Regions from separate parts of the Homo sapiens genome. Here all the other regions are linked to region 4. The links come from fine-mapping of genetic effects on gene expression. A gene starts in region 4. Each other region holds a variant in brackets. All regions are shown on one strand. Distances are between the middles of the regions.

Region 1 (6,174 bases), 150 kb before region 4:
GACAGCAGGAGTGAAGGAAAAGGGAAGTGGAGGAAAGGAAACTAGTAGAGTGAATTTGAGGGTGCTGTTCCAAACCGACCACCACTTATATCAAGGGTGACTGATTGTTCCTCTAGGGCCATCTTCTGAGAGGTTGGATGAACAAATGCCTTTCAGGAAAGTCAAGAAACAGGGAAGAATTTATCTGCTAGTTCTTGTTTCCTTTTGGCCAAAGATTTGCTCCTTGGGAGCACTTTCTCCCCTTACTTCTGAGTTACAAATGCAAGGGCACCCAGCAAGCAAAAGCATCTCAAGCCTCGTTGTCTCAGGAAAACTCTGGGCAGGACACAAGAGTTGAGAAGTGCTAGCAAACAGTGCAATGCTGTAGTGTGGTGCCCAGGTGAGATGGTGCTGATGTAGGTGTTCACACAGAACTGCTCTCTGTAGCTCTCTACAGCTGCTCTCTTGTTCTGAGTAAGAATAAGTGGCCAAAGATCACTTTGAAATAGTGAAGAAGTGGTATTGATATGCTCTTTAAATCTGGACTTGTCCCCTTCTTTTTTCCCACGACACTGACTTGCTAAAGAGATCAATGTAGAAAACACCATAGTCTGAATTGGTCTGATACTTTCTTCATGAATTCATTTAGCTTATTATTTGAACTTTGTATTTCCTGTAAACTGGAAATTCAGTGTAAATGTTTTCATAGATTCAAGTTAAAGATTTTTGGCTAGAATACAATGAATGATAGTGTACATTTTATCTCGCATCACATTAGGAAACACATACTATCTCATCCCACTAACAGTGATGCTAAAATTGACCACTGGAACAAGGTAATACCTAGTAATCTTAATAATAAACATTGACTATAAGAGTATATTAAACTATGTTTTAACTCATAATACAAAAATAAACATTTAAATCATTATGAAATATGAAAATAAACATTTAAATTAAACAGAAATTACAGCTAAAGAAATGTATAGTTCACTTTGGAAATCTAAGGTTCACTAACCCAGTAAAATTGAGTGATATTGCAGAATCATTGGCTAGTTTGTATCTGGTGGGAATGAGATGATGATAATATGATACACAATCATTTTCCTGGATTCATATCTGAACTATTATAGTAAGGGTTTTAGAAATCATATGGTATTCAATACACCAAAAATAATAGTATTTTATATATTATTATTATTATTATTATTATTTTGAGACAAAGTCTCGCTCTGTCGCCAGGCTGGAGTGCAGTGGCGCGATCTCGACTCACTGCAACCTCTGCCTCCCGGGTTCAAATGATTCCCCTGCCTCCACCTCCCAAGTAGCTAGGACTACAGGCATGCACCACCACGCCCAGCTAATTTTTTATATTTTAGAGACAGGGTTTCACCATGTTGGCGTGGCTGGTCTTGAACTCCTGACCTCATGATCCACCCGCCTTGGCCTCCTAAAGTGCTGGGATTATAGGCATAAGCCACCATGCCTGGCCTATTATTATTTTTTTTTAGAGACAGTCTTGTTCTGTTGCCCAGGCTAGAGTGCAGTGGTGTGATCATAGCTCACTGCAGCTTCAAACTTCTGAGCTCAAGTGAATCCTCCTCAGCCTCCGGAGTAGCTGCGACTACAGGTATGTACCACCACTCCCAGCTAATTTTTTTTTTTTTGAGACAGAGTCTCACTTCGTCACCCGGGCTGGAGTGCAATGGCACGATCTCAGCTGACTGCAACCTCCACCTCCCGGGTTCAAGTGATTCTCCTGCCTCAGCCTCCTGAGTAGCTGGGATTACAGGTGCATATCACCACGCCCAGCTAATTTTAATATTTTTAGTAGAGACGGGGTTTCATCATGTTGGTCAGGCTGGTCTCGAACTCCTGACCTCATGATCCACCCGCCTTGGCCTCCCAAAGTGCTGAGTGCAGTGAGCCACCACGCCCGGCCTAATTTTTGTATTTTTTTGTAGAGATGGGGGTCTCACTGTGTTGCCCAGGCTGATCTCAAACTCCTGGCCTCAAGTGATCTTCCTGCCTAGGACTCCCAAAGTGCTGGGATTACAGGCATGAGCAACCATGTCCATCCTCAATTTTTAAAATTCTAGGCATTATTCTAAGTCCTTTGCAGGTAGTAATTCATTTTATCTTCATAACAACGCTATGATGTTGAGATAGGTATTGTTACTTTTCCTTTTTTATGAATGCAGAACTTGGAGCAAAGATTTTTCTCTGTAATAGGAATGCTCTTCTCCCAGATATCTGCAAGGCTATTTCCTCATTTCCTTGAAAGTTTTGTTCAATACTACCTTCTTATTGATGCCTACCCTACTGTTACAAATTGAAATTCACCCCTTTTCCCAGTTCTTATCTGCCTTTCCTCGCTCTATTATTTTTTTCACTATAGCACTTATCACCTTCTGTAGTGGCTTTGTAATGTGCCTACTTGGCTAGGCTGAACTACATTTCCCAGAATTATCTTCCCTGTACATTCTCAAAGTGGGCCACAGAGACATTTTGCATGAGATGTGGAAAGCAGAAAGGGAGCAGCAACATATTGTCTTCACTCTCAGAAGGTCAGTGCAGGCTGGGCACAGTGGCTCACATCTGTAATCCCAGCACTTTGGGAGGCCGAGGAGGACAGATCACTTGAGGTCAGGAGTTCGAGACCAATCTGACCAACACGGTGAAACCCTGTCTCTACTAAAATACAAAAATTAGCCAGGCATGGTGGTGGACGCCTAGTAATCACAGCTATTCAGGAGGCAGAGGCCCTAGAATAGCTTGAACTTGGAAAGCAGAGGTTGCAGTGAGCCAAGATGGCGCCACTGCACTCCAGCCT[C/T]GGCGACAGAGTGACACTGACTCAAAAAAAAAAAAAAAAAAAGAGATCAGTGCAGAGGCACCAAGTGTCGTTGCACATTACACATGTGTTATTTATCTGCTGGCTTATCTCCTTGATGTGGGACAGAAGCTGCTGTAGCTCCCCACTGCCCACTTCAGCTTCTCTGCCTCCTGGGCCAGGTTCATGTTTAGCCTCATAACGAGGGGTGCCAGCTTCTGCAGGATACCCACATCATCACAGTCGGAGGTTGTGAGACTGAACAACAGGTGGATTCCAGCTTGTGTTTGTGAATTCCAATTTTTTGTTGCTAGAGCAAATCACAACTAAGCCCCCTATTTAGAATGATTCTCTAGGGGACAGATTTATTACGTTGGACCACCCCCATCACGGAAGGGGCAGCACTTTGTTCTCACTGGAACAGATACTCTTTATAGGGATTTTCTCTCCCTGCACGTAGAGGTTATGCCAAAACCACCATCCACAAATTTACGGAGTGACTTATCCACAATCATGGTATTCCATATAGCATCACTTCTGATGCAGGAAGTCTTTTTGTTTGTTTGTTTTGTTTTTTGTTTTGAGACACAGTCTTACTCTGTCACCTAGGCTGCAATGCAGTGGCGGCATCTTGGCTCACTGCAACCTCCACCTCCCAGGTTCAAGTGATTCTCCTGCCTCAGCCTCCCGAGTAGCTGGGATTACAGGCACACATCACCATGCCTGGCTAATTTTTTGTATTTTTAGTAGAGACAGGGTTTCACCATGTTGGCCAGGCTAGTCTCGAACTCCTGACCTCAAGTGATCTGCCCACCTTGGCCTCCCAAAGTGCTGGGATTACAGGTGTGAGCCACCGTACCCAGCCTAGGAAGTTTTTGCATAGAAATGAAATACAGCAATGGAACTATGCTTATATTAATAAAATTCACCAGTCTTACCCTGTCACCCTCATCCTAAAGCCACTGGCCTGATGGAAAGGTGGAATGGCTTTTTGAAGACTCATTTATGGCACCAGCTAAGTGTCATATGGCATACATTGTGAGGCCTAGACAATGTCCTCCAGGATGTAGTATATGCTCTAAATCAGAAAATAACATAGGTCAGATGCAGTGGTTCATGCCTGTAATCCCAACACTTTGAGAGGCCAAGGTGGGAGGATCACTTGTGGCTAGGAGTTTGAGACCAGCCTAGGCAACATAGCAAAACCCTGTTTCTAAAAAAAAAAAAAAAAAATTAATAATAAATAAATAAATAAATAAATAAAAGGAAAAGAAAATAACATAGATGGTGCTCTTTCTTCTACAGCCAGGATTCATGGGTCTGGGAATTAAGGTGGTGGTGAGTTTGGACATGGCTCCTTTCATTATTATTCTTAATGATCTACTAGGAAACTTTTTTTGCCTCCTATCCCTGAGAATTTGAGATCTGCTAGCTTGGAGGACTTAGTTCCCAAAGTAGGATGCTTCCACTAGAGGACATAGCAATTGTTCCACTAAACTGAAAGTTGAGACTGCCACATGGTCACTTTGGGCTCATCATGCCAATGAATCAACAGACAAAATAGAAGGTAACTGTTCTGACTACCTAGAGTGATTGGTTCTGATCACCAGGGGAAAACTGGGTTGCTTCTACACAATGGGGATAAGGAAAAGTATGTCTGGAATGTGGGTGATCCCTGGAGTGCTGTTAATATCCCATGTCCTGTGATTAAAGTCAAGGGAGAAACCCTAACAACCCAATTCAGAGGGGACTGCTAATGATCCAGACCCTTCAGAAATGAAGATTTGGGATACCCCACCAGTCAAGGAACCATGACCAGATGAGGTGCTTGCTAAGGGCAAAGGGTCTATGGTATGGATAGTAATTATAAATATCTGCTATGACTAGGTGACCATAAGTAAAAATGAGGACCATAATAGTTATCAGTATTGTTTGTTTGTTTTGTTTTGAGACAGGGTCTTTCTCTGTTGCCCAGGCTGGAGTGCAGTGTTGTAATCTCAGCTCACTGGAACTTCTGCCTCCCAGTCTCAAGTTATCCTCCCACCTCAGCCTCCCAAGCAGCTGCGCCACCACATTCGGCTAGTTTTTTATATTTTTGGTAGAGACAGTGTTTCCCCATGTTGCCCAGGCTGGTCTCAAACTCCTGACCTCAAGCAGTCCACCTACCTCAGCCTCCCAAAATGCTGGGATTACAGGCGTGAGCCACTGTGCCTGGACTAGTTGTCAGATGAACTGAGAAACTGCTCTAGCTACATTAGTAATTACACAAACCTCTGAATGCTTTATAGAGTTTACCTATTACTGAAATTATTCTGGAATTTCCATTTCCAAACAAAATAAAAAAAAATTTATTTTATTGTGATGATTTCCAAACAAAAACAAAAATAATTTTTAAAGTTTACTTTTTTATTAGTTCAAGCACATTACATAATATTAAAATGAACCAACTAAATGTTGCCCACTAGAGATTTTGATTTAATATTTCACACATTCAAAATTAGCCCATCGGTCAGGAACAGTGGCTCATGCCTGTAATCTCAGCATTTTGGGAGGCCTAGGCAGGTGGATCGCTTAAGTCCGGGAATTTGAAACCAGCCTGGGCTACTTGGTGAAATCCCATCTCTATGAAAAGAAAAAAGCCAGGAGTGGTGTTGCGTGCCAGTAGTCCCAGCTATGTGGGAGGCTGAGGCAGGAGAATCTCTTGAACCCGGAATGTAGAGGTTGCAGTGAGTCGAGATCATGCCGTTGCCCTCCAGCCTGGGCAACAAGAGTGAAACTCTGTCTCACACACACACACACACACACACACACACACACACACACACACACACCAAAAAAAAAAAAAAAAAAAGCCAGGCACGGTGGCTCATGCCTGTAATCCCAGCACACTTTGGGAGACTGAGGGGGGCAGAGATCACAAGGTCAGGAGTTTAAGACCAGCCTGACCAACATGGAGAAACCCCGTCTCTACTAAAAATACAGAAATTAGCCGAGTGCGTTGGCATGCACCTGTAATCTCAGCTACACAGGAGGCTGAGGCAGGAGAATTGCTTGAACTCGGGAGGCGAAGGTTGCAATGAGCGGCGATTGCGCCACTGCACTCCAGCCTGGGCAACAGAGCGAGACTCCGTCTCAAAAAACACAAAACAAAACAAACAAGCAAACAAAAAACTAGCACATCCAGGCACAGCTGAGGCAGTGATTGTTTCCTGTTAGTATTGATAGCTCTTTGTAAATATCCTCAACACAATACTTATCACCTTATAGTCATTTGTTCACTGATATAGTTCCCAGGCTAGACTACAGTCTATAAAGGCATTTTGTTGTTGTTTTTGAGACAGAGTCTGGCTCTGCTGCCCAAGCTG
Region 2 (6,005 bases), 65 kb after region 4:
GTGCGATCTTGGCTTACTGCAACCTCTGCCTCCTGGGTTCAAACAATTCTCCTGCCTCAGCCTCCCCGAGTAGCTGGGACTACAGGCACGCACCACCATGCCCAGCTAGTTTTTTTTTGTATTTTTAGTAGAGATGAGGTTTCACCATGTTGGCCAGGCTAGTCTCGAACACTTGACCTCAGGTGATCTGCCCACCTTGGCCTCCCAAAGTGCTGAGACTGCAGGCATGAGCCACCGTGCCTGGCTTTTTTTTTTTTTTTTTTTTTTTTTTTTTTTGAGACAGAGTCTCACTCTGTTGCCCAGGCTGGAGTGCAGTAGCATGATCTTGGCTCACTGCAACCTCTGCCTCCCAGGTTCAAGCAATTCTTCTGCCTCAGTCTCCCTAGTAGCTGGAACTACATATGCACTCCTCATCGCCTGGCTAATTTTTGTATTTTTAGTAGAGACAAGGTTTCATCATGTTGGCCAAGCTGGGCTTGAACTCCTGACCTCAAGCAATCCACCTGCCTCAGCCTCCCAAAGTGCTGGGATTACAGGCGTGAGCCACCATGCCGAGCCTGCCATTATGGTATTATTCCCAACTCCATTACTTACTAAAATGATGTGACTTTGGGCAAGTTACTTAACTAGCCTTTTTCCTAAACTTTAAAAAAAGGGATAATTATGCATGTATGAATTTATACACATATACTTTATAGGGTTGTGAGGATTAAATACAATAATTCATAAAAGAACAGTGTTTGGCTTATAGTAGCCTCTCCTTTTTCTGATATTACTAGAGTCTTTACAGTCTTATTAAGAATAGTTTCATTCATTCATTCAACGAATGTTTATTTAGTAACTGCCAAATATTAAGGGTTGGTGGTGGGGATAAAACAGTTTATTTAAAATATAGTCCATTTCTTAAAAGAATTTATAGTCTAACAGGAAACCGTAAACAATTAAAACGGCAATTACAATTCTGTATTGTAAGTGCTATGATAGGAATGGGCATGGGTTGTTATAGGAGTACTGAGGAGGGGCACCCAGTCCAATCCTGGGGGAGAGGAGAAGGGTGGCAGTGGGAGGCAGGAAAGGGTGCTTGGAATAAGTGGTGGGATGGATGATGGCTGTTAGCTCAATAGGAGTTTGCTGGCTAAATGTGTGTGGGGAGTGAGAGAATTAATAGGTGGGGCAGGTCATTCCAGGAAAAGGAAACAGGATTGCTGTGACGATTATATGAGATCATCACGTAATATGCTTAGCATAGTACCAGGCACACTGTAACCAGTATTATATGTTAGAACTGTTATTGTTAAGATGGGAGATGAGAAAAGCATGGTACGTTTGTGGAATTGCAAGTGATTGTTTACAGCTGGCATGCATTGTAGATGGTGACATTGTGAGAGATGAAGCTGGAGAGTTAGGGGCATATTAGGATACGTGCCTTCTATGCTATTTGAGGATACCCTGTTATCTGTGGAGAGACACTAGAGGTTTTAAGCAGAGAAGGAAATTAAGCTTGCATTTTTAGAAAGGATGTTTGGCAATAATGTGGCCAGTGGTTTGAAGGGGTCAAGACAAAAGGAAGACATTGTTACAATCTAGGAGAGGATAGTGGTGTCCTGAATTAAGGCAGTAATAATGAGAAGAGAGGCAAGTGGATGGATTTCACACATGAAAATAATTAGAATCAACTGGACTGTGAGATTGATTAGATATGTGACAGGGGAGGATTCAGGTATGATAGCCAGGTTTTTGGCTTGGATGGTATTTATAAATACTGAGTTAGGAAACACAAGGTTTTTGTTGTTCCTTTTGGTAGGGAGGGCTGCACATGAGAAGGAATGATGACTTAGATGAAAAAAATGTTAAAGTTAATGAAATCACCTGAACTCGTTGACAATCATCTAATTTTTCATGGGACATCACGATGAAAAAGTTCCAGCTTTGCTACTTAATTGTTGTGTGAACTTGGGTGGATCACTAACCTCTCCTATTTATGATTTCCTCTCCTCTAAAATCTGGATAATAATATCTGTCTGTCCATTTCACATATATTGAACATATTCCATATGCCACATACCTAGCTAGGCACTGGGAATACATAAATGTTTTTGCCTCAAGGAACTTACATAGCCCAGGGAAGCAACCACTCTGTAGACAAGCAACTATGATACGGCATTTGATATAATAAATATATATGAGCATTAATGAGACTGCAGAGGAAGAAGTTTGTTGAAGGGTGGGGATAACATCAATATAATTATTACAGAGGTAAAACGTGAGTTGAGTTTTAAAGGAAAAGCAAAAATTTGCCAAGTCAGCAAAGATAGTTGACAGCGGAGT[T/A]GTTGTGAGGTTTATTTTGAATGAGAAATATTTAAAATATAGCAAGTTACTATAAAAATCTGAGTAACGGTATTACTCTAGAGTGCTTATAGAGTACTAAATACAATAAGTACTGTTCTGATGAAATAGTGGCCGTATACTCATTACCAAAAATAACAATATCTGCATTTCATTGTTTTAACTTTGTTTTCTTTCTTTTCTTTTAGTGTTCCTCTGAACAACAGGGAGAATATCTCTGATCCCACCTCACCATTGAGAACCAGATTTGTGTACCATTTGTCTGACCTGTAAGATATATTTTTTTCCATAGTAATATAGATGTGGAAGTTAATAGCTTTTAATTTTAACCTTGTTAGTAAGAATGTTTTTAAAAATATGTTGGAGTATAAACATTTACAAACATAATCTGAACTTTTGAATACATTAATTCCTATGTTAATTATTAGGTATCATAAATTCATAAAACTTTGTCACAGATAAAATTTAGCTATACATTTTTTCTAAAGAAAAAATCATTGGCATTCATAGAAAGGCCAATTTCTCTTAATAGTTCAATAAGTGGATTTGATCTTATAAAAAGGCAGGTGTTTCTTTGGAAATGACAGACTCCAACATCAATTTTTTTAAAAATTCTCCCTTTCTTGTCACTATAAATAACTTGTTTAGACAGATATACAGTTGGGAATAAGCCTAACACAGTAGAAATTGCTGTATGGTGTAGATAAAACAATCATATTATCATATCATTAATTATATTGCTTACTTTCAACTAATATATATTAAAGATTGGAAAATCCCATAAGCTATTCTGTATTGTAGAGCTGCTTATGTCTGAAAGGAGTCATCCCTTGCTGTCATGTCAGAGCTGCAAGAACTAATTGATTTTGGATTGAAATGTGTAGTCACATTTTGAGACAGCATTTGAGGGGATTGTCTAATACATATATTTGCTTTTCAGCTGTAAAAAATGTGATCCTACAGAAGTGGAGCTGGATAATCAGATAGTTACTGCTACCCAGAGCAATATCTGTGATGAAGACAGTGCTACAGAGACCTGCTACACTTATGACAGAAACAAGTGCTACACAGCTGTGGTCCCACTCGTATATGGTGGTGAGACCAAAATGGTGGAAACAGCCTTAACCCCAGATGCCTGCTATCCTGACTAATTTAAGTCATTGCTGACTGCATAGCTCTTTTTCTTGAGAGGCTCTCCATTTTGATTCAGAAAGTTAGCATATTTATTACCAATGAATTTGAAACCAGGGCTTTTTTTTTTTTTTGGGTGATGTAAAACCAACTCCCTGCCACCAAAATAATTAAAATAGTCACATTGTTATCTTTATTAGGTAATCACTTCTTAATTATATGTTCATACTCTAAGTATCAAAATCTTCCAATTATCATGCTCACCTGAAAGAGGTATGCTCTCTTAGGAATACAGTTTCTAGCATTAAACAAATAAACAAGGGGAGAAAATAAAACTCAAGGACTGAAAATCAGGAGGTGTAATAAAATGTTCCTCGCATTCCCCCCCGCTTTTTTTTTTTTTTTTGACTTTGCCTTGGAGAGCCAGAGCTTCCGCATTTTCTTTACTATTCTTTTTAAAAAAAGTTTCACTGTGTAGAGAACATATATGCATAAACATAGGTCAATTATATGTCTCCATTAGAAAAATAATAATTGGAAAACATGTTCTAGAACTAGTTACAAAAATAATTTAAGGTGAAATCTCTAATATTTATAAAAGTAGCAAAATAAATGCATAATTAAAATATATTTGGACATAACAGACTTGGAAGCAGATGATACAGACTTCTTTTTTTCATAATCAGGTTAGTGTAAGAAATTGCCATTTGAAACAATCCATTTTGTAACTGAACCTTATGAAATATATGTATTTCATGGTACGTATTCTCTAGCACAGTCTGAGCAATTAAATAGATTCATAAGCATATACCTGTGTGAAATAATTTGTTGGAAAAAAGTTTCCTTATGTTAACTTTCTTTACGTAAGTTAACTTGTTATTGATGAATGGTTTGTAAGTATGATGTAATGAAGCATTAATCACAGAACTAATACATGTACATATTTGAGGTGGCTTTGCCATTTTATACCCATAATTAAATAAAAGGGCAAAATCCCCCCTGATAAATACCATGTTTATCATGGCACATAAAACTTTATGGCAGAAAGCCAAGGCCAATTGACATATATATTTAAAGGTACCATGGAAAGTAAATGCTAACTCTGAATTTAAAACAGTGGGAAGATGATTAGTAAGAGTTGGTTTCTTGAAAAGGAATTGTTCTGGTAATAGTCATCTTTAATGACTTCCACGGATTATTCAGTGTTTCTTTAGGGATATGCATAGGACACTGGTGCTTCAGTAGAAACCCCAGTTTTGGTGTATTAAAGATACATCCATTCTTGACTGATCTTTAATCTAGAGTGTGGTTTTAGCCAAGTCTTTGAATCTCATTTAGTCAGTAAACATTTATTAAATATTAACCAAATGCACAGGATTGGTCTGTGGTGGTGAAGTTATGGTGAGCGCCCTTGAGAAAGTCACTATCACTGCTCGCTCCCCAGAACTGTGCCTAGGTGTCATCTTCTCTGTGAGAACCACCCTGACTACTTTTTAAATATCTCAAACCCCATTTCTTTATCTTAGTCTACTTCCCCCCAAGTACTTATCTCCCTCTAGCAGACTAGGTAATTTACTTACGTGTCATGTTTATGGTCTGTCTCCCCTCACTAGAGTGTAATCTCCACGAAGGCACGCACTTTTGCCCATTGATGTTTCCTCACCATCTGGAACAGTGTCTGGCACATGGAAGTACTCAATACATATTTGTTGAATGAATGAACATGAGTGTAGCTTAGTTGAAGAGATAAGACATACACATAAATAATTATTATTTGGCAGAGCCTGCTGAAGGCAAAGAAATAGCTTCCAAAGTGCTATGAGAATTCATGAGAGACTGCTTCTGAAGAGACCGCTTACTTTCTCCTCATCTTTGCCTTAGTTTCTCGGTGTACCCAGTAGAAGAAGTTTTGTAGATCCACATTGCAGATCCTTATAGGAAAGACCCCTATTCCAGCATTATTACCTCATTAAATGCTAGCTGGAAGAAGACTGCAATTCGTAGTCCCACAAGTCTTCCTTCTTTCAGAAGTTCAGTTAAACTCTGATACTACCATACTAGTAACAATTTAGTACTTACTATGTGCTAGGTACCAATGTAAGTGCTTTATATATATTAACTCATTCAATATAAATCTGGAGTAGCTGGTGACTCTTAAATGAGAGTTATTGAGGATAGATTAAAGCCTTTCTTTAAGTTGTATTCAAACATTTGCTGGTATTAGTGGAACATTTAGAGGGGCACACTAAGGAATCAATGTAAGATGTGGTGGCCATGAAAGGAGCCTCTCAGTTCTCTGCAAAGAATGTAATTGACCTATAGTTCTGAGATCCACTGTGTTTGTGCAAGGGACACTAAGACAGGTCAGTTCCCGGGAGACACAGGACTCTTCTGATGGGGCACTGACTTGGGGACTCCTTTTTATCTTTGCTGAAAATTTCTTAGCACTGCACCTCCAGACATTATCTGTCCAATCATCCTTCCTATCCTCTTTGCTCCACATGGGTAAGACCTGCATCAGGATCCGA
Region 3 (6,174 bases), 49 kb before region 4:
TAATCAAGAATTAACAAGAGTTGGAAGTAAAGAATCAAGATTATGTCAATAAGACTAGAAGACTAGATCACAACTAACACAGTCAACAGAATACTTAATATAAATAAGGTCTAAAGTTTCTTTCTCTTTTGCTTATTTCGGGTATTCTGCTACTGAATCCCTGTTCATTTTTAGAAATAACTTTTTAAAAATTAGCACATTTCCCCTGTAGAAGTTTCAGAAAATACAGCTAAAAAAAAGGGGAAGTAATATTAAACACTCATAATCCCAACCACTGAAGATGACCATTGCTAATATTTTGGTGTCTGTTCCTCCAAACTTTCATTGATGTACACGTCTTCATTTTTCAAGATTGCCATTTTATTATTTAGCTTATTTCTTTTTAAAAATCCACACCAAAGGCCGGGCGCAGTGGCTCTTGCCTATAATCCCAGCACTTTGGGAGGCCGAAGCGGGTGGATCACCTGAGGTCAGGAGTTCGAGACCAGACTGAACAACATGGAGAAACCCTGTCTCTACTAAAAATACAAAAATTAGCTGGGTGTGGTGGCACATGCCTGTAATCCCAGCTACTCGGGAGGCTGAGGCAGGAGAATTGCTTGAATCCAGGAGGTGGAGGTTGCGGTAAGCCAGGATCTCACCATTGCACTCCAGCCTGGGCAACAAGAGCAAAACTCCGTCTCAAAAAAAATAAAAATAAAAAAATAAAAAAAAAATCCACACCAAAAAATCTTACTTCCCTTCCTATTTTACCAGAATAAAACATAACAGAAGTTTGTCATAGTATTTCATACAGAAAGGGTGAGAAGTAATTAAAGTGAAAACATTATTTATTGGGCAATTAATGTGTACTAGGCCCTGTTCTAACTGCATTACATCAAGAAATCTGAAACAACAAGAAACTAAGTAATTATAAAATATATTCAGCTAGAAAATGAGGAAGCCAGAATCCAAACCTAGGCAGTTAGCTTCAGAGCCTTTACTCTTAACTACCGTGCTTTAATGGCCTTTAGTACAGTTCGCTCTCATTCTCAGCAAGTCCTAAAATCCAAGGACGCAGAGGGCTGACTGTAAGGGCTTGAGCATTGTGAGTGTTGGTATTCATGGAGGTGCTGGAAATAATCTCCTTTGGACACTGAAGGACAACTGTACAGTTGATTCTTGAACAACACGACTTTGAATTGTGCGAGTCCACCTATATACTATATATATACACAATATAAAATATATATTTATATTATATTATTTTATTTCTGAGACAAAGTCTCACTCTGTCATCCAGGCAGAAAAAAAAAAGGTTTTCCTCCATCTCTGCCACTCCTGAGACAGCAAGACCAACCGCCTCCTCTTCCTCCTCCTCCTCATCAATCTGGTTAGTGTGAAGACCTTTATGATGATCTGGTTCCTTTATGATAATCCATTCATTTAAATGAATAGTAAATATATTTTCTCATCTTTATAATTTTCCTATAATATTTTCTTGTCTCTAGCTTACTTTATTGTAAGAATACAGCATATGAAATATACAATAGGCCAGGCGCCATGGCTCATGCCTGTAATCCCAGCACTTTGGGAGGCCGAGGCAGGAGGATCACTTGAGCTCAGGAGTTCAAGACCAGCTTAGGCAACATAGCGAAACTCTGTCTCCACAAAACAAAAAAATTAGCTGGGTGTGGTAGCATGTTCCTATAGTCCCAGCTACTCTGAAGGCTGAAGTGGAAGGATCAATTAAGCCTGGGAGGCAGAGGTTGCACTGAGCTGAGTTCACTCCACGGCACTCCGGCCTGGATGACAGTGAGACTTTGTCTCAAAAATAAAATAAAATAAATATAAATATAACTATTTATAATATACAAAATATGTGTTAATTGACTGTTTATGTTACTAGTAAGGCCTCTGGTTAATCGTATGCTATTAGTACTTAACGTTTTTAGGGAATGAAAAGTTTTAGGTGAATTTTCTATGTGGGATGTTTCTACCATGTGGAATGCCTTACTCTGTTGTTCAAGAGTCAACTGCATATATTTTAGTATACACACACACGCACACACACACATACCTCATTTTATTGCACTTTGCTTCACAGATATTGCATTTTTTACAAATTGAAGGTTTGTGGCAACCCTGCGTCATGCAAGTATATTAGTGCCATTTTTCCAACAGCATGTGCTCGCTTCATGTCTCGGTTTCACATTTTGGTAACTCTCACAGTACTTTAAACTTTTTCTTTATTATTACATCTGCTATGATAACCTGTAATCAGTGATCTTTGATGTTACTATCAAAATTATTTTGGGGCTCCATGAACTACGCCCATATAAGATGGCAAGCAATCCATAAATGTGTATGTTCTCACTGCTCTACTTACTGGCCGTTCCCCCATCTCTCTCCCTTCTCCTTGGCCTCCCTATTCCCTAAGACACAACAATACTGAAATTAGGCCAATTAATAACCCTGCAATGGCCACTAAGTGTTCAAGTGAAAGGAAGAATTGCACATTTCTTATTTTAAATCAAAAGCCAGAAAAAATTAAGCTCAGTGAAGAAGGCATGTCGAAAGAGAAGACAGGCCAAAAGGTAGGCTTTTTGGGCCAAACAGCCAGGTTGTGAAAGCAAAGGAGAAGTGCTTGAAGGGAATTAAGTGCTACTCATGAACAAATGAATGACAAGAAAGCAAAACAGCCTTATTGCTGACAGGAATAAAGTTTGAGTGGTCTGTATAGAAGATCAAACCAGCCACAACATTCCCTTAAGCCAACACCTAATTCAGAGCAAGGCCCTAATGCTCTTGAATTCTATGGAGATTGAGAGGTAAAAAAGCTGCAGAGGAAAAGCCTGAAGTTAGCAGCCACTGGTTTACGAGGTTTAAGGAAAGTGTCTCCATAACATAAAAGTACAAGT[T/C]GAAGCAGCAAGCACTGATGTAAATAATAGAAGCTGTAGCAAGTTATCCAGAAGATCTAATTAAGATAATTGATGAAGGTGGATACACTCAACAACAGATTTTCACTGTAGTCAAAACAGCCTTCTATTAGACAATGCCATCTAGGACTTTCATAGCTATAGATGAGAAGTCAATGCCTGGCTTCAAAGCTGCAAAGGACAGACTGACTCTCTTGTTAGAGGCTAATACAGCTGGTGACTCTAAGTTGAAGCCAGTGCTCATTTACCATTCTGAAAATCCTAGGGCCCTTAAGAATGATGCTAAATCTACTCTGCCTATGCTTTATAAATGGAATAGTGGGCTGGGCATGGTGGTTCATGCCTGTAATCCCAGCACTTTGGGAAGCCAAGGCAGGCAGATCACTTGAGGCCATGAGTTTGAGATCAGCCTGGGCAATATGGCAAAACCCCATCTCTACTATAAATAAAAAAATTAGCTAGGTGTGGTGGTGCATGCCTGTAGTCCAGCTACTCAGGAGGATGAGGCATGAGGATTGCTTGAGCCCAGGAGGCGGAGGTTGCAGTGAGCTGAGATGGTGCCACTGCATTCCAGCCTGGGAGACACATTAAGACTCTGTCTCTAAAAAACAAAAAACAAAAACAAAAACAAAACAAAAATAAAGGGTACAACAAAGACAGCACATCTGTTTACAGCATGGTTTACTAGAGTATTACATAAACTTAGTTGATAAAGCAGCAGCAAGATTTGAGAGGACTGACTCCAATTTTGAAAGAAATTCTACTGTGGGTAAAATGCTGTCAAACAGCGTGGTATGCTACAGAGAAATCTTTTGTAAAGGAAGCCAATTAATGTGGTAAACTTCATTGTTGTCTTATTTTAAGAAATTGCCACAGCCACCTCAACTTTCAGCAACTGCCAAGATCAGTCAGCAGCCATTAACACTGAGGTAAGACCCTCTACCAGCAAAAAGATTACAACTCACTGAAGGCTCAGGTGATTGTTAGCATTTTTTTAGCAATAAAGTATTTTTAAGTTAAGGTATGTACATTATTTTTTACACTTACACTATCACATACTTAATAGACTACAGTATAATGCAAACAAACTTTTTATTTAAAAAATTTTTTTTAGAGTTTTATTTTGAGACAGGGTCTCACTGTCACCCAGGCTGGAATGCACAATTATGGCTAACTATAGCCTCGACTTCCCAAGCTTAAGTGATCCTCCTGCCTCAGCCTCCCAAGTAGCTACACAACCAGCTAATTTTTTATTTTTTGTAGAGACGGGGTCTCACTATGTTGCCCAGGCTGGTCTCAAACTTCTGGGTTCAAGTGATACTCCTGCCCCAAAGTGCAGGGATTACAGGTGTGAACAATCGCACCTGGCCTAGTATAAACAAACTTTTACATGTACTGGGAAACCAAAAAATGCATGTGACTTGCTTTATTATGATATTTGCTTTATTGTTGTGATCTGAAACCAAACCTGCAATATCTCTGGGTATACCTGTGTTTGTGTGTGTATGTATGTGTATGTAAATGTGTATGTGTGTGTGTGTATATGTATGTTTAACAGAGAGTACAGCCAAGACAAGAATCTAAAAAACATTCGTAACGTATAAATGAGCCAAACTGGAAGGAAAAACAATCTTTTTTTTATATTCCCATCAAAATGGAAGGAAATCCTGTTTATGACTCATAGAATATGGCCTAATTTGGTTGGTATAACCTAATCAAATCCACTTCTGAGATAGCAGAACTCAGAGTGACACCCATGGGAATGAGTCTCTTTCCCATACCTGAGAGTCCAAGTCTTCTCCTTTCATACAGAAATTGGCATCAATGACATTCAGACCCACCAACAGACCAGCAATTATGGCTCCTTCTTCTTCCATCATGAGGGCATTGGGTTCGTAGAATTCACTGTAAGAGAAATCCACAGAATTCCTTATTGTAACAAAAATCTCAAAAATCCAGAGACAAGGACAAAAATGGTTGATTCATGGTTGAATCATAGTCATCATGGTTGATTATAGCCATCTACAAAAATAGTAAAAAAAAAACTACAAAAAGAAAGGCTTTAGTAAATATTTTACTTTTAGAATAATAGGTGGATGTTGGCAAGTGGCACTGGAGAAAAAATTTTTTAAAAGAAAAAAATAATAGGCGCATGAATAGATTCTTTAAATAATAGGCTGGCAGAAAGACGTGACTGAACAGTATTGTGGTTGAAGCAGGTATTCAGACTTTTCTGACATATTTGTACTTGTGATGCACCATCAGATAATTTTGCAATCTTTTATGCATCTTAAAACATTTGTTTGGTAGCTCGGCATGGTGGTTCGCACCTGTAATCCCAGCACTTGGGGAGACCAAGGCGGGAGGACTGCTTGAGCCCAGGACTTTGAGACCAGAGTGAGCAACATAGTAAGACCCCATCTCTACTAAAAACAAAAAAAAATCTGAATGGATAAAAATTATTGGCTGGGCACGGTGGCTCACGCTTGTAATCCCAGCACTTTGGGAGGCCGAGGCGGGTGGATCACTTGAGGTCAGGAGTTCAAGACCAGCCTGGCCAACATGGTGAAACCCCATCTCTACTAAAAATACAAAAATTAGCTGGGTGTGGTGGTGCACACCTGTAATCCCAGCTACTCAGGAGGCTGAGGCAGGAGAATCGCTTGAACACAGGAGGCGGAGGTTGCAGTGAGCTGAGATTGTGCCACTGCACTCCAGCCTGGGTGACAGAGCAACACTCTGTCTCAAAAAAAAAAATTCGTGAAGACCCATAGATAATTAAATACTGCTTATAATGCACCTAAATTACTAATACACACACAAAAAAACCAGTGATGTAATTCATATGATCTAACTATTGCATTCCTTGGTATTTACCCAACTGAGTTAAAAACTTACGTCCACACAAAAACCTGCATACATGTGTTTATAGCAGTTTTACTCTTAATTGCCAAAATTTGGGAGCAACCAAGATGTCCTTCAGTAAATGAATGGACAATGGCATATGACTTAGCACTAAAAAAAGGGAGCTATCGCCAGGCGCAGTGGCTCACGCCTGCAATCCCAGCACTTTGGGAGGTCAAGGCGGGTGGATCACCTGAGGTCGGAAGTTCGAGACCAGCCTGACCAACATGTAGAAACCCTGTCTCTACTAAAAAAAAAAAAAAAAAAAAAAAAAAAAAATACAAAATTAGCCGGGCATGGTGGCACACGCCTGTAATCCCAGCTACTCAGGAGGCTGAGGCAGGACAATCAC
Region 4 (6,174 bases):
CTCTCACACATTTTCCATACTGAGAAATGTGTTGCTACAGATTTCTCTATGAAGAATTCAAATGGCGCTGCTAAAAACGCTTACATGAACCAAACAGCTCACTTTTGCTTATCCATAGGAATCCTGCTCCAAAAACATATATTTGAGGTGTTAAAATTGTTAAAAATTATTTTTGAGACACTGGTAAACTAGATTTCATGATAAAGGGAATATTTCATATTGTATAACTCTCAAATTGGACGGGAATACATTTTTTTCAAACAAAATATGTAAACTGAGGCAGTTGCCAGAAGACTTCTTGGTAGCCTTCTAAAACTGTATTTTTCTTCCCTAAAGACTTTTAAAGCTTTGGAGGCTGTTTTAAGTAGTACTGGAATTGTTGGATGTAACGATGTTTTGATGAAAATATAGAATAAAATAATAATAAAAAATAAATAGTACTGGCATTGCATGGAATTTCAGCTGATGTCTTATAACTTGTGCACATAACGAAACATACAGCCAAAGAAAGCTGTCTAATTAACAAACCAATTGTTAAAAGATGCAAAGGGTCTTAAAAACCACTTAAACATTGTTCTTAAAGACACACCCAAAATGACTGCTTTGTGTTCTGTGTTATTAACCATCCCTAAAACTTTCTCAAGGCTAAGGCTGACTGGGAAGATAAAATGCTTATCAAACACAATGGGAAAATTCTGAGTCATGATAAGATTTCAACTCAAGGTCAAAGGCAGAGAATCACCTTTCCTAACCCCATCTGCTAGGTACAATTCACCTATGGTCTTCTTTGTCCTGTCGATGTGCCTAACTATCAGGCAGATGTTTATAAAGAATTTCTCCTCATATGCAAGCGTTTTTTGTTTTTTTTCATCAGTATAAGGACAGAGAATAAACCTTAGCTAAGAAGCAACTGTATTAAAAACAAAACGATTTGTAGCTATGATTCAAATCAGCTCTCTTTCTGTGGTATTAAGAGAATTAAAGGGTAGAAGCAGAAAACCTCTCATAAATTAGCAAGAGTCCTGGAAAAAAGTCGCAAGTCAAGAGACCACAAAGATCTCAGAGGTACTGACAGTGGAAATCTCAAATGGATCATAATAGTTACCACAAATAATTTATAAAAAGCAATGGCCAATAGATTCCAATATTACCATTCTATTGTAATCTATAGGGATGCCATATTAATCATATTTAACCTTTCCAGGCATTATGCTTTCTTAGGAGTCCATATTCAATAAATAAATGCTGAAAAGTTATTTTCTCATCTAACCTAATAATCCATATTGTTAAAAAAATGTTTTATCAAACATTTCCTAGATGTCATAACTTGCTTAAAATTGTATCCTCATATAATGGTGAGGATACCATTACCAAATACCCTGGTGTTTCTACTGTATTCATCATGTACAATCCTATAATTATAGTCATGTTGTCTTAACTTAGTGTTATAAATCACTACAATTTCTATAACATTTTCATATATGAACAAAATTAATAGCTTTCTCATTATTGAATAGAATCAGATGTGATAAGTGACCTCAAATGTTTTATTTAGAGGCTTAAAGACAAAGAACTCTAAACGAGTATCCAGCATCTTTTGAAAGGATACCTAAAGGGGCAAGAAAAAAAATTATCTTTCCCCCATGAGCAAGAGAAGGGGAGCTGGGTGGTAAGTAAGGATGCAAGGTTTTCAGGACTGTTAACAGTTGAGAGTGTAGGTTCTTTCTACCTCTCCCTGATCCTCCCAGCCCTCCCCCATAACAATGAGGATGCTGGTGAAATACTAGCGGACAGGATCTGACCATACCTTCATGGGTAGGCTCTGGGTCAGGTGTAAGTGAGATGTCATCCAGCTCTCGCAGGCAGAGCCATTCTCCATCCATGGACACTCGGAATTTGCAAAGGTAGATGGTCTCCATGGCAGCCTGTGTGATCTTGTCAGTGGTGGGGGTTGGCATATCGGTCGGAGGCGTCAGAGCAGACATGATGACTCAGCTGGGACCACAACACACACACAGACACACACACACTCACACACACACACCAAAAAAATAAATACAACCTCCTCACCAAAAAAACCCAATACAAAGCTCTGAAACAAAGCTTTCAGGAAAAGGGTGGGGGAGGTTTAAAAAAAAAAAAAAGGAAAAATACCTTATAGGTTAAGAACAAACTGCTCAAGATAAACAATTCTACACTATCTTATAGACAGTTCCTACCACATAGCAAAATAAGATGATGCTTGTCTTCTCCCAGCTTCCTCTCCTTTTATCTTCCCTTCCCTGCCCCCCACCTTTTTTTTCAGCTGAGCTATAGGCTTTAAATCCCGCACAGCTGATGCTGCCTTAGCTGGCTTTAAAAATCTGGCCTCGATATGAGTAAGTGAAAAATCCTCCTCCTTTGTGCAGAAAAAAAATATAAAAGAAAAACCTGAACAAAAAATAAACCTATATTTTCAATGTAGCTTAAAAAAAAAATCCTGAGCTGCAGAAATCACTTCCAGGATCTGCTCAGATGAGCTGGGATGCTGAGTTCTCATAGGATTGGCCGTGCGCAGTAAGCAGGGTGTTGACCAAAATGGCTGACTAATGAACTGAACTGAAAATTCAGGCTCATGTGACCAGCTGCTCTGAACGTAGGGCAAGCAATTCCCAGGATGCTTTATAGATGCTGCTGATGCTGGGAGAGCAATTAGGCTTCTCTCTCTCATCCTGTACAACCCACTTCCAGACTGTGCTAGTCAAACTGTGATCAGACATAACACAATGCACATATCCTCATCAATTCTTCTTACTTTGGGATCAAGGACTGAATAAAAGGATGACAATTAATACCGGATAATAATCTATAGTAAAGATGGTAAAAGAGGCAGTTAGATTAATTTAACAAGCATATAATTCACCTCTTTCATTCTTATCTACATAGCTATTAAAATTCTTTACTATGCTAAATGTTATGTTTTAAGAAAAGCTAAAGCATAAAAAATTGAGGTTCTCAGAGGGAAAAAAAACAAAAAGATAAAAAGAAAAGCTAAAGTAGATTTTCAATTTAAATATCTTATTCTTGGGCATTTATAATTTCCTTCTCCAAGGTACAAAAACCTGACCTTTTAGGTTAGGCAGAAATGCAAAAAAAAAACTTCAAGTTAAAAAAGTAAAATCTTTCCCAATTAATGGCAATTTCCCCCCTTTTTGATTTTGTTGTATTTATCAAGTTTCTGTATTAAGCATAAAATACGTTTCTTTTTTTTTCTTTTTTCTTTTTTGAGACAGAGTCTTGCTCTGTAGCCCAGGCTGGAGTGCAGTGGCGTGATCTCAGCTCCCAGGTCCAAGCAATTCTCTGCCTCAGCCTCCCGAGTAGCTGGGATTACAGGCACCCACCACCACGCCCAGCTAATTTTTGTATTTTTAGTAGAGACGGGGTTTCACCATCTTGGCCAGGCTGGTCTTGAACTTCTGACCTCATGATCCTCCCACCTCAGCCTCCCAAAGTGCTGGGATTACAGGCGTGAGCCACCATGCCCAGCCTTAAGCATGAAATATGTTTCTAAGCAGATTAAACCATGTTATATTTTTAAAATCCTCCCATTCGATAAGATACTGAAGACAATTATATTTTCTTAATACACACACACACACACACACACACACACACACACACACACACACACGGCCCTATATTATCCAATGAGGCATTTATACCTTGGTAGCAAAAGGGCAGGTACTTGCTTTATGAACTACATAAATTACAAAGAGAAGAATAAGAATTTTCTTTGAAAATGTTTTGGACAATTGAAAGAAAGTGTTTGTTTGTTTTTGTATTGAAGGGTTCCAATTTTAAGGAGGAACATACAAATTCAAGAAATATGACCTGAGACTATTCCTTTCTAGGGATTGTTATCAGAGGGACATCTTGATTTACCTAATTTCTGAAAACTAAAAAAATTCTCCTTGAATATTGTTAAAATCTCAAATGCTTCATCATAATTTGAGACTGAACTGAAAGAAAAAAATGCTAATAATCAAATTCTGTAGAGAAACTGGCATTTTCATATTGTTACGAAGACAGGGCGGATGGCTGGGCGCGGTGGCTCATGCCTATAATACCAGCACTTTGGGAGGCCAAGGCGGGCAAATCACCTGAGGTCAGGAGTTCGAGACCAGCCTGGCCAACATGGTGAAACCTCATCTCTACTAAAAATACAAAAATTAGTCAGATGTGGTGGCATGTGCCTGTAATCCCAGCACTTTGGGAGGCTGAGGCAGGTGAATGGCTTGAGCTCAGGAGTTTGAAACCAGCCTGGGCAACATGGCAAAACTCCATCTCTACAAAAACAAAAATTAGCAAGGTATGGTTGCGCGCACATGTGGTCCTAGCTACTTGGGAGACTGAGGTGGAAGAATCACGTGAGGCCAGGAGGCAGAGGCTGCAGTGAGCCGAGATCATACCACTGCACTCTACCCTGTCTCAAAATAAAAAAAAGAAGGAGGGTATACTGGTACAATGTAAGAAGGCATATATATAGGCTTATTTATAATTGGGGAAAATCAGTAAGTTACTAAGGAAAGCAAAATACTCCTGGTTTTATTTCTATCTCATTCTCTCTCATCATTACCCTACATCTAGACTCAGAGCCATTCATTCATTCATTCATTCAACAGATATTCACTAAGAGGTGCTCCACATGCCAGGTAGTGATCCAGGCACTAGGCACGCAGCAGTAAGACAGAAACACCTTTTCCAGGAAACAGAATTTTCATATCCAAATACTGAACACAAGCCTTCATTTAACACATTCTCATTTAATTCAGTTCAATTCCTTTCTAGCCAAAAATATTCCCATATTATATATTAATAAGGGGACAGTTTATAGATTCACTTTATATCATGCAATACTTCAAAACATAGTAAGTAGTCATTAAAACCTTCAAATTACATGGGACATTCCTGGAACCACAACTCCAAACAGCCCTAGCTATCTGTATGTGTGATATCAAAACTCTAGATCACTGATATGTTCTTAAAACAGAACAAGGAATACATGAATAAATCCGAATGCCATGTGATTGTCTGGGGTCCAAAACCTGAATTTGGCCTTGTCACAAACCACAACAATCTCTTCACCCCAGTAAGCATTTACTAACTTGAACAGATCTAGATTGATTGCAACATACCAACACAACAGGAACATCAAGGTTAGTGAGCAAGAAACTTGATTAACATTCCTTCGGAAGATCCATCCCACCCTGCCTCTCTCCAGGTAGAGGACACAGAGAGGCAAGCCCAAAACAACTAAAGTTTTTGGCAAGGAAAGAAAAACATGCCTGTATTGGTATCCTTGAATTTCCCAGATCTACCAGTTTGAGGTGTTGGCAGCCATTTCAGAAATAAGACCCGGGGGTGGGCAAGAAAAACTGTACTTCTACGCTGTTCTTTAGGTAAACACCATTGAGTCTTCAGCACGAACAGTTATCCATTGTTCACAGGCAAAGAAGTTACTATGAAAACAGTGCTATTTGTAGAAACTTATAAAAACAATTCTACGGCCGGGCACGGTGGCTCATGCCTGTCATCCCAGTACTGTGGGAGGCTGAGGCAGGCGGGTCACCTGAAGTCGGGAGTTCAAGACCAGCCTGACCAACATGGAGAAACGCCATCTTTACTAAAAATACAAAATTAGCTGGGCGTGGTGGCACATGCCTGTAATCTGCTACTCTGGAGGCTGAGGCAGGAGAATCGCTTGAACCTGGGAGGCGGGGGTTGCAGTGAGGTGAGATTGCACCACTGCACTCCAGCCTGTGAAACTCCGTCTCAAAGAAAAAAAAAAAAGATTTTAGATATTGCTTAGTACCGTTTTTACATTTTGGTCTTTACTAAGTAAACATCTTAGCTTTGAATATGAAGTTAAAGTTAAGCCATCAGTAAGATATTCAAACCTTGATTTTTTTTCTCACATACAGAGTAATTACTGTATGAGCTGTATTGAACTATTTTCTCATTTGATCCCATTTGTGAGTAATGGCACCTATTTGTAAGATGGTTGTGAGGCGGGTGGGAGTTCAGTCTGTGGCCCTAAAAGAATAGGCCTGTGTGAAGTTCAAATCCAAAATGAAGATCCAAAAAATACTACGTTCTAGCTGCTTAAACAGTCTGTATTTTCCACATTATGATGGA

Alleles and levels. Alleles are on the strand shown, and positions count from the first base shown. SD is a standard deviation of normalised expression in the study named. Not every link is listed here.
For the expression in B cells of the gene that starts at base 2,595 in region 4, allele T in region 1 goes with a lower level than allele C (large effect, 0.79 SD a copy in Fairfax 2012).

Evidence for each region. PIP is the estimated chance that this variant, and not a neighbour inherited with it, causes the effect.
Region 1: its variant is the best candidate, but not a certain one, in a credible set for the expression of RUFY3 in B cells (Fairfax 2012, PIP 0.65).
Region 2: its variant is the best candidate, but not a certain one, in a credible set for the expression of RUFY3 in whole blood (Lepik 2017, PIP 0.64).
Region 3: its variant is the best candidate, but not a certain one, in a credible set for the expression of RUFY3 in whole blood (TOPMed, PIP 0.52).

What each region holds. Positions count from the first base shown.
Region 1 is chr4:70,867,258-70,873,431 of GRCh38, reverse strand. No RefSeq gene overlaps it. Among named protein-coding and RNA genes, the nearest start is that of GRSF1, 30 kb to the right of the region's middle. The variant C/T (reference allele first, on the strand shown) is at 2,813.
Region 2 is chr4:70,653,821-70,659,825 of GRCh38, reverse strand. JCHAIN (joining chain of multimeric IgA and IgM) reads left to right here. Exons shown (of 4, transcript NM_144646.4): 3 at 2,535-2,615; 4 at 3,287-4,285. The coding sequence ends at 3,497. Among named protein-coding and RNA genes, the nearest start is that of JCHAIN, 9.7 kb to the left of the region's middle. The variant T/A (reference allele first, on the strand shown) is at 2,329.
Region 3 is chr4:70,767,187-70,773,360 of GRCh38, reverse strand. It overlaps RUFY3 (RUN and FYVE domain containing 3), which reads right to left. Exons shown (of 18, transcript NM_001037442.4): 5 at 4,700-4,823. Among named protein-coding and RNA genes, the nearest start is that of RUFY3, 48 kb to the right of the region's middle. The variant T/C (reference allele first, on the strand shown) is at 2,901.
Region 4 is chr4:70,718,385-70,724,558 of GRCh38, reverse strand. RUFY3 (RUN and FYVE domain containing 3) reads right to left here and starts at 2,595. Exons shown (of 18, transcript NM_001037442.4): 1 at 1,808-2,595. The coding sequence starts at 1,985.